Linked DNA regions of Homo sapiens: region 1 is linked to region 2. The links come from fine-mapping of genetic effects on gene expression. A gene starts in region 2. The other region holds a variant in brackets. All regions are shown on one strand. Distances are from middle to middle.

Region 1 (5,252 bases), 32 kb after region 2:
AACCTGGGAGGTGGAGGTTGCGGTGAGCCAAATTTGCACCACTGCACTCCAGCATGGGCGACAGAGCAAGGTTCTGTATAAAAAATAATAAAGAAAGAAAAAACTCTGAAAGTCTGGAAGAAAATAGCAAAATACTAATAATGGTTATTTTCTAAGGCAAGGGCCAGCAAACAATTTTGGAGAACAGGCAGATAATAATACTTAGGCTTTGTGGGGCATCAGTCTCCAAAGCAACCAGTCAGTTCTGCCACGGCAGCACGACAGCAGCCACGCGCAGTCCACAGCAGACGAGCCCGGCTATGTTCCACTACAGCTGTGTGGGCGCTGAAACTGCACTGCCGTTTAAACTTCATATGTTACAAAACATTCTGTTTTGATTTCTTTTCAACCATCTCAACATGAGCTGACTTTTTTAGTTCATGGCTTTACAAAATTAGGTGGCAGACGACTTGGCCCCAACCCCTGCTGTAGAGGATAAAATAGGAAGAGTAAAAAGGGAAACTTTCCACCAAGGAAGTGATGAGATTATATGTGAATGTTACTTTCTGTGTGTTCCTCTCCTTTTCAAATAAAAATAAAATCTGAAATAAACCTAACAAGTGAGACCACCAAATCCCACCCGTAGTACTAACATAAACATCAATGAAGTTCAGTCCTTGGGCTCACCTTTGCCTTGGACCTCACGGTGATGAGGGAGCTCCCAAACCTTGAGCTGGCCTGTAAAACATGCCGTCTGTTAATGGGCTTTGAAGAACATAGTGTAATACTTTATCCGTTTAAAATAAACCAAGGGGCATTGTTTTGGTAATTTTTCTTTCTTCAGTCTTTCAAGGGATACTTACTTCAGGAGAAATCAATACATATTGGGCCTGAAGAAAAAAATTGAGGAGAGAGACAATGTTATTACTGTTTGTGTGGCTTTTTAAAATCAATTTTAATTATACCCTTATACCCTCATTTCTACTTTTTTTTTTTTTTTTTTTTTTTTTTGAGAAGGAGTCTTGCTCTGTCGCCCAGGCTGGAGTGCAGTGGCGTGATCTCAGCTCACTGCAACCTCTGCCTCCCAGGTTCAAGCAAGTCTCCCGCTTCAGCCTCGTGAGTTGATGGAATTACAGGCGCCCACCACCACGCCCGGTTAATTTTTTTGTATTTTTAGTAGAGAGGCGGTTTCACCACGTTGGCCAGGCCGGTCTCGAACTCCTCACCTCAGGTGATCCACCCACCTCAGCCTCCCAAAGTGCTGGGATTACAGGCATGAGCCACCACGCCCAGCCTCATTTCTACATTTCTTGATTAGCCTTACAAATGTGCATGCCCTTTGACCCCAGAAATTCTACTTATAGAAATACAGGTCAGAAAAATAACCAGATGTATAAAAACATTTATGTGACTATTTACCATATTATTTAAAACAATGAAAATTGGAAATGGCACAATTGACTAACAATGGTTGCCTGAATAATGGGTAAATAAACTATGGTTTGTCTGTAGATAAAATACTCATCAGCCGGTAAATATCATATTATATAAGAATATCAGATAACATAAGAAAATGTTCTCGGTATATTGTTAGGTAGAAAGAAAAATCAAGTTACGGCCAGGCACAGTGGCTCACACCTATAATCCCAGCACTTTGGGAGGCTGAGGCAGGCGGATCACTGGAGGTCAGGAGTTCGAGACCAGCTTGGCCAACGTGGTGAAACCCCGTCTCTACTAAAAACACAAAAATTAGCCAGGCACGGTGGTGTGCGCCTGTAGTCCCAGCTACTCAGGAAGCTGAGGCAGGAGAATCGCTTGAACCTGGGAGGTGGAGGTTTTACTGAGCCGAGATCATGCCACTGCACTCCAGCCTGGATGACAGAGTGAGACTCCATTAAAAAAAAAAAAGTTACAAAATTATGCACAAATTATGCACAATAGGATCACAATTGTTAACCAAAATATGCACGCACATAGTGTAATACTTAAGGGTAGGCTTTAGAATCAGATCTTGGTTCAAATCTCTGTTGTGCCCTGCCTTCCTGGCAGTGTAACCTTGAATAAACTTCCTCGCTGATCTTTAATTTTTTTATTTTAAGACAGGGTCTTGGGCGGATCACGAGGTCAGGAGATCAAGACCATCGTGGCTAACACGGTGAAACCCCGTTTCTACTAAAAATACAAAAAAATTAGCCAGGCGTGGTAGTGGGCGCCTGTAGCCCCAGCTACTTGGGAGGCTGAGGCAGGAGAATGGCATGAACCTGGGAGGTGGAGGTTGCAGTGAGCCGAGATCACGCCACTGCACTCCAGCCTGGGCGACAGAGCGAGACTCCGTCTCAAAAAAAAAAAAAAAAAAGACAGGGTCTCCCTATGTTGCCCAAGCTGGTGCTGAACTCCTGAGCTCAAGGGATCCTCCTGCCTCAGCCTCCCAAAGTGCTGGGATTACAAGCATAAGCCACCACACTCAGCTGAGATCTTTAATTTTTTTAATCTGTAAATGGGCATAATATTAATTTCTTTTTTTTTTTTTTTGAGACAGAGTCTTGCTGTTGCCCAGGTTGGAGTGCAGTGGCATGATCTCGACTCACTGCAAGCTCCGCCTCCCGGGTTCACGCCATTCTCCTGCCTCAGCCTCC[C/T]GAGTAGCTGGGACTACAGGCGCCCGCCACCAAGCCCGGCTAATTTTTTGTATCTTTAGTAGGGACAGGGTTTCACAGTGTTAGCCAGGATGGTCTCGATCTTCTGACCTTGTGATCCGCCCGCCTCAGCCTCCCAAAGTGCTGGGATTACAGGCGTGAGCCACTGCGCCCGGCCAATTTCATAGCTTTTATGGGGATTAAATGATACATAGTTCTTAGCATATGCATACTAAATGCACAATAAATGGTAGTAATTAAATTCATAGGAAAAATACTAGCAGGATCCGCTCTAAAGGTAAGCAGGTATTAGCTCTGCAGAGTGGAATTTTAGGTAGATAATTTTTAATTCTCTTTGTACATTTTTGTATTTTCTAAAATTTCCATAATAAACTTTCACTAATTTTGCAATTTAAAAAATAATTTTAAATTTTTTAAAATAGGTGGGGTACGGTGGCTCATGCCTGTTATCCCAGCACTTTGGGCTGTAATCCCAGCCTGGCCGACATGGTGAAACCCTGTCTCTACTAAAAATACAAAAAATTAGCCAGGCGTGGTGGTGCATGCCTGTAGTCCCAGCTATTCGGGAGGCTGAAGCAGGAAAATGGCTTGAACCTGGGAGGAGGAGGTTGCAGTGAGCCGAGACCGTGCCACTGCACTCCAGCCTGGGCAATAGAGCCAGACGCTGTCTCAAAAAAAAAAAAAAAAAAAAAAAGTTAAATAATGGCCAAATGCTTTAGGCCCAGGAAATGTAACTTAAGGAAACTCACCCAAAAAAGGAATAAACAAAGAAATGAAACAAAAAGCAAAAGAGAGGACGTTTTAATGAAACTCCAGTGGCTGGCCGAGCATGGTGGCTCATGCCTGTAATCCCAGCACTTTGTGAGGCCAGGTAGAAGAACTGCTTGAGCCCAAGAGTTCAATACCAGCCTGGGCAACATAGTGAGGCCCCATCTCTACAAATAATAAAAAGATTAGCCGGGTGTGGTGGCACATGCCTGTAGTCCTAGCTACTCGGGAGGCTGAGACAAGAGAATCACCTGAGCCCAGGAGTTTGAGGCTGCAGTGGGCCATGATCACACCACTGCACTCCAGCCTGGGCAATGGAACAGGAACCCGTCTCTATTTTAAAAAGAGAAACTCCAATGGCCATGGCCTGTTTTCTTTCTTCTGTGCTGTGGGTGCCTAACCAAGCAGTGGCAGGCTGTGTGACCAGGGACCTACATAACACCAAGTCCAGTGGGACTTTAGCTCTGGGCACAAATGTTGCAGAACTGTAAGAACTGCAGGCAGCTGGGGCCCACAAAACATGGACAGATGATGGTGTCCTGACCCTAGGAGGTATGAATTCAGGTAAGCACTTTATAGTGGACATGAGTTAACAAGGAATCAGCAATTAGTGATCCTTTCCCAATAAGTTATAGAATTTTGTAGAACACTTACCTTTTCTTCTGGACATGGAGTTATCCATGATTTGCATTTGCCAGTCATGTCACCAAGGGTGGTCTCTTTGCCATTATATACATATACTCGGCCGTCTTCTCCCCCAATCAGTCCAGAGGTTACATCTGCTATCCTCAGGGGGGCTGCCATGATGATTTCATCTGAAAACAATAAAAACCGACAGAAGGAAGTATTTGACTCCTCACTGTCATCTTTTCCTTGTTCCGCTACTGGATCCTAACCCAACCTCTTACAAATAATATTAGTATCTCCTTTAGTCGGCTGTGATTTCATCCTGGCAAAGGCTTTTGTTTCCTACTTCATTCATCAATAGCAATTACTACAGGTGATTCTCATATTACCAGCTTCAAGAAGTGCAACTCCCTCTCTGGTCTTGCCTCATTCAAGATCTGTCTAAAGGTCCTTGGGCCACTGGGCTGTCAATTATAAGGGCAGAGCCCAGATGACCCAATTAGGGGACCCACCCCCTGGGCAAAGGGACTCAATTCTTGTCAAAGGGTCCTGTTCCTTTCTTACCTAAGCCATCATCATCCAGGTCACTCAAGTGCAGAACGCCACCAAATCGGGAGAAGCGGCGGTCTCCGCTGAAGGTGCTGAGCAGCAGAGGCTGCGCGTCAGATGTGAGTGCGTACATGCGAGTGGCTCCGCCTTGGTGTAGGGTCACGGTCAGGAATGCCACCTTAGACACGTCATCTGAAACGAACCACAGTTCCTGCTGGCCTCACAGAAAGGAAGGCATTACAGAACACGGAATAGCACCCCATCCTCAAGTGACACTGATCACTCGGGATCCTACAGGACAGTCGGTTTCGGAGCTGGTCATCTCCGGCAGTCAGGGAGGTACAACCAGCTTGGGCACCAAGGCACAAACACCAGAGAGCTTCAGTGATTTCCCTCCAGGCAGGTATTCTTTTTTCCAGTCTTATCCCCATAATACAGTCTCCACACAGCCACCTTTTTATTTTCTCGTATCACAAACTAGGTCACCCCCATGACTGACACATCCAAACGCAAGTGGACTCTGGATGGAGTCCAAACTCTTCACAAGGCCTTACAGAATCTGACTCCCACTTGGGGATCTAGCGCCATTAACCTTTTCACCCACACTTCACCAAAATGAACTTAAACCACAGCCCAATCTATGTCTTAAATTTGGGCCTTTGGACATGATGTGCT
Region 2 (5,242 bases):
AGAAAGAGACACACAGACAAAGTATAGAGAAAGAAAAATGGGCCCGGGGGACTGGCGCTCAGCATACAGAGGACCCGCGCCGGCACCGGCCTCTGAGTTCCCCTAGTATTTATTGATCATTATCAGGTGTTTCCTGGAGAGGGGGATGTGGCAGGACAATAGGATGATAGTGGAGAGAAGGTCAGCAGGTAAACACGTGAACAAATGTCTCTGCATCATAAACAAGGTAAAGAAAAAAGTGCTGTGCTTTTGATGTGCATATACATAAACATCTCAATGCCTTAAAGAGCAGTATTGCTGCCAGCATGTCCCACCTCCAGCCCTACGGCGGTTTTCCCCTATCTCAGTAGATGGAATATACAATCGGGCTTTACACTGAGACATTCCATTGCCCAGGGACAAGCAGGAGACAGATGCCTTACTCTTATCTCAAATGCAAAGAGGCGTTCCTTCCTCTTTCACTAATCCTCCTCAGCACAGACCCTTTACGGGTGTCGGGCTGGGGGACGGTCAGGTCTTTCCCCTCCCACGAGGCCATATTTCAGACTATCACATGGGGAGAAACCTTGGACAATACCTGGCTTTCCCAGGCAGAGGTCCCTGCGACCTTCTGCAGTGTTTTGTGTCTCTGGGTACTTGAGATTAGGGAGTGGTGATGACTCTTAACAAGCATGCTGCCTTCGAGCATTTGTTTAACAAAGCACATCCTGCACAGCCCTTAATCATTTAACTCTGAGGTGACATAGCACATGTTTCAGGGAGCACAGGGTTGGGGGTAGGGTTACAGATTAACAGCATCTCAAGGCAGAAGAATTGTTCTTAGTACAGAACAAAATGGAGTCTCTTATGTCTACTTCTTTCTACACAGACACAGTAACAATCTGATCTCTCTTTCTTTTCCCCACATTATCAAGTCAAACATCCTCTCTTCTGTGAAGGCTTCTCTTTGTGCACTGCCCTCCTACTCCATCCCCAGTCCCAGTACCCTGCAGAATAAAATGTTTCTATCTCTGTCTCCTTAGCTTTGTGTCCATACATAGATATTGAAAGGAAGTCTGTGGAACTTGTGTCTGCCTTGTATTACTACTGTGGAAGGGACAATAAATTTATTAACTCATATTTTTAAAATATGCATACATACTGTATTTAACCTAAGACTTTTTTCATATTTTAAAGACTGGAATTGAGATATGTCTTTCAATCTACATGTTTAGAAAGCATAACTTATCAGTTTTTTTTTCTTTCTTGGTGGTACATAAAATAATGGTACCTTAAAATTGATGCTATCTTACATTTTATTAAATATGGAATAGAAATCTTATGTGTCTGTGCTCCTCATTCTTTATAGCAAAAGTTTAATACATGACATCATTCCATATGACAGTTGATTATTTTTGCCACTACTGGGGCTCAAACCATAATACCCCAAAATATGATGTTTTGGCATGCTGAGTCTTTGGGGTTTGTTTGTTTTGAGATGGGAGTCTCACTCTGTCGTACAGGCTGGAATGCAGTACAGGCTGGAATGCAATGGCATGATCTGGGCTCGCTGCAACCTCCACCTCCTGGATTCCAGCAATTCTTATGCCTCAGCCTTACAAGTAGCTGGGATTACAGGCACCTGCAACCACACCCGGCTAATTTTTGTATTTTTAGTAGAGACGGGTTTTGCCATGTTGGCCAGGCTGGTCCTGAACTCCTAACCTCAAGTGGTCCACAACATTGGCCTCCCAAAGTGCTTGGCTCCCAAAGTGCTGGATTACAGGCATGAGGCACCACGCCCGGTGGCATGTTGAGTCTTTGAATTAAAGGAAATTAAAAGGGTCTCAGAAAGAAGCCTAAAAATCAAGGCCTCTCTCTCTCACCTTCCCCCTTCCTTTTGTCTCTCTGATACTCTTACTTTTTCCAAGCACCTGAAGGGGCTCTCTTTTCCTGCACAGCCAGATAAGGAATTTCCTTATCTGACAGAGAAAACTCTTTTCCAAAGAAATGCAATTGTCTTAAAACCCGTTCCTTAGGAATCGCATTAAATAATCAGAAGAGATTAATCACCCAGAGAAGAGACAAAAACTGAAAGTCATAGCCACACTGAGACTTTTCATAGATACTTCTGAGGGTAGCTCCAAGAGATTACCTGGGAAACTTTACCTGTATAATAGGACAATTTTTGTTCAGAGTGAAGTTTCACAGCTTGTCCACAAGCGATTGTTTGTACTTCTGTCCCACTGAATGTCCAAGGAGAATCATTTGCAAACCACTGTCTGGCTTTCGGGCCCATTCATACCTATCTCCCTCTACTCAACAAAGAAGGGTATACAAGCATCTGGACCTTAATTGAGTTATTGAGTAATCACTCTTCTGTGATTTTTCCCTATGCACGTTAAGCAAATTTTGTATGCCTTTTTCTCCTGCTAATCTGTCTACTTAGTTCATTCCAGCAACTTTCAGAGGGCAAAAGTAGGAGCTTTCCCTCTTGCTCCCTACACCACGTTAAATTTAAATATAAATTAAATGATGTGGGAATGGGTAACCTGCTCATTTCCAAACTGCAATTTTCATAGGTATGAAAATTCTCCACAAACTACAAAACCATGACACTCCAAGCGCCCAAGAACCTAGGTTGGACAGCTCACTTAGTGCAGGTAAACGTGCTCCACCCATCTCCCAGCCCGCCTGCCCCCTCACTTAGGTACAGGTGCAGGTACAGGTAGGCAAGCAAACGTCTATTGGCTGTGGACTTAACAGGCTCGCCCACAGGTACCTTCCGAGCATGCGTGGGGAAGTAGCACGCAGGCGCGGCACGCCCCGCGCATGCCTGGTGCACAGAGTCTGCAGGTCGGGCGGTAGCGACAGGTCAGAGCTGCGGCCTGAGCAGCCAGCGTCCGGCATGAAGGTCTGGGGTCTGGCTGCTGCCTGCTTCTTGCTCCAGCACCATGGAATGCCTGCGCAGTTTACCCTGCCTCCTGCCCCGCGCGATGAGACTTCCCCGGCGGACGCTGTGTGCCCTGGCCTTGGACGTGACCTCTGTGGGTCCTCCCGTTGCTGCCTGCGGCCGCCGAGCCAACCTGATTGGAAGGAGCCGAGCGGCGCAGCTTTGCGGGCCCGACCGGCTCCGCGTGGCAGGTACTGCCCTTCCCCGGCAACAGCCTTGGGACGCTGGTCTTGCAGTGACCTTAGACTGCTGCCCCAGCCGTCCGGCGCGGCGCGCCTGTTGCTCCGCGCCCTCCGCAGGCCTCGGCCTCCCGCGTGTCCTGTGAGCTTGCACAGGCCCGCGGGCCGAGCTGCGTCCCACTCGCTCAGAATGCGACCTTGCTATGTGCGCTGTGCCCTGCCGGGGTCCCAGCGGCCAACCCTCTGCCTTCTCCTCCACCGCCCTTGCTGCAGATTATGTAACCATAGGAACAACCTAGGAATCGTTTACAGACCGTGATCACGTTAGTTAACACCCGCTTAAGTGCTCTTGTAAGAGGTTTTTTCTGTGTTGTTTTTGAGACAGGGTCTTACTATGTTGCCCAGGCTGGACTCAAACTCCTTGCCTCGAGCCATCCTAACGCATTAGCCTCGCAAAGCGCTGGGATTACAGGCGTGAGCCACCACACCTGGCCGAGAGGTGTTTTTAAACAAGGATTTCATCTGTTCGGAAGTCATAAGTATAAATTAATACTTCCCTGTTTTCTGTTTCTTCGTTATGGACACATTTATACAGTTGTCCAGTTGCACGGAGATTGGGGACGCACCTAGAAGTGAGGCTAAAGACTGAGTTGTTTCTGAGAACGACTTACTTTCAACTACAGTACTCTATAAGTAAACAGCCAGGGAGATCGGATTGAGAAAAAAAAATCTTATTTGCTGTTTATTTTTTCACCAAATGTTGAAGCATGGTGAAAAGTTAAGATTTTCACAAATGTGAGTGCAAATATTTGAGGAATAAAAGGTATTGAAATGAATGACTTTATTAAGAACATAGCAGTGTCCTCAAATATGTTTTCTCAATTGTGCTCTCAAAAGCCTCCCAAAGTAACTCCTCGTCAGCACCTCATTCTCCACTTATTGGAGAGGCTAAGTTGGGTTACATGCTCTGCACCCTCAATTGATAATGCTTGGGAATCCAGTTTCAGCAAGTTGGAGGAAACTTTTAGGACAAGCATTGACGTTCACAATCTCAATCCCGGTTACACTCTAATTTGTGACATTAAAACATTGAAAGGCATTTGTAATCAGCAAATGCCTTTTACCTTTATTCATCTTACCCTTATAGTGATAATTTGTATTTTGTAAAAGGGAAATGAAACTTCAGATACTAACAAATTACAACAATCATTACGTGTATGTAGTAGAAAAAAGATCAGAAATAGGTTTTTTTTTCTACAGTCTCTGGAATCAGTGTAATTACTTTGGAAGCACAAAACAGTGTCCTCTGTCAGTCATTAAATGTACTTGATTATACTTCACCGCTCACTTCGACTCAGTCTAATCACGTTTTAAATAGACAATTTTAAAATAAAGATTTGTCATTTCAGCTCAGTGGGGGTATTTCATAAGTATTCACTATAAAGGATATCTGTAGAAAAGAAGTAAAATCATAGGTTTCATAATTTATGAGCCAGTCAACTGGAATGCTTGAAAGATCAGGTGGTACTTAGGACCTATGTTTTCTAAAATGTATCTACTACCAAATGTGCATGAAGAGTCTTTTAAATTATGCGAAAAGGAAGACCAGACATTTTCTTAAATCTCAGAACACGATGTTGCACATTTGTTCATCCAACTCTGAGATATCAGTAATAATTAGAAAGGTAAAAGGGTGATTGGAATCCATCAGTTATTTTAATGCCTCACCTAAGCCATTAGTTTTAAAAATCATTCCCTGCCAAACCTAAGATAGTCACTAACAGATGTTAAAATTAAGAAGAGTATTTCTTCTTTTCTTATAGGAAAAATATTTAAAAATAATAAAATAGTCTGAAGGCCTCCACATACTTTGAGAGTTGTATTTTAGCTCTATGTGAAAACCAATCATGTGACCACAGGAATTCTCTTAATTTATTCTTCAGGTGAAGTGCACCGGTTTAGAACCTCTGACGTCTCTCAAGCCACTTTAGCCAGTGTAGCCCCAGTATTTACTGTGGTGAGTATGTACAGTACATTGGAAATCGTACAGAAAGTGCTTCCCATACATAAGTTAACTCGTTGGACTGTTGGCCAAGATACTACTTATTTTGAGCTTTATAATCATCATAGC

Evidence for each region. PIP is the estimated chance that this variant, and not a neighbour inherited with it, causes the effect. A credible set is the group of variants that fine-mapping cannot tell apart.
Region 1: its variant is the best candidate, but not a certain one, in a credible set for the expression of MRS2 in testis (GTEx, PIP 0.64).

What each region holds. Positions count from the first base shown.
Region 1 is chr6:24,432,521-24,437,772 of GRCh38, forward strand. It overlaps GPLD1 (glycosylphosphatidylinositol specific phospholipase D1), which reads right to left. Exons shown (of 25, transcript NM_001503.4): 21 at 4,593-4,769; 22 at 4,056-4,216; 23 at 843-869; 24 at 667-717. Among named protein-coding and RNA genes, the nearest start is that of MRS2, 32 kb to the left of the region's middle. The variant C/T (reference allele first, on the strand shown) is at 2,616.
Region 2 is chr6:24,400,114-24,405,355 of GRCh38, forward strand. It overlaps MRS2 (magnesium transporter MRS2), which reads left to right and starts at 2,823. Exons shown (of 11, transcript NM_020662.4): 1 at 2,823-3,123; 2 at 5,055-5,128. The coding sequence starts at 2,934. RefSeq lists enhancers at 1-515, 516-1,251, 3,460-4,194 and silencers at 228-522, 1,408-1,702.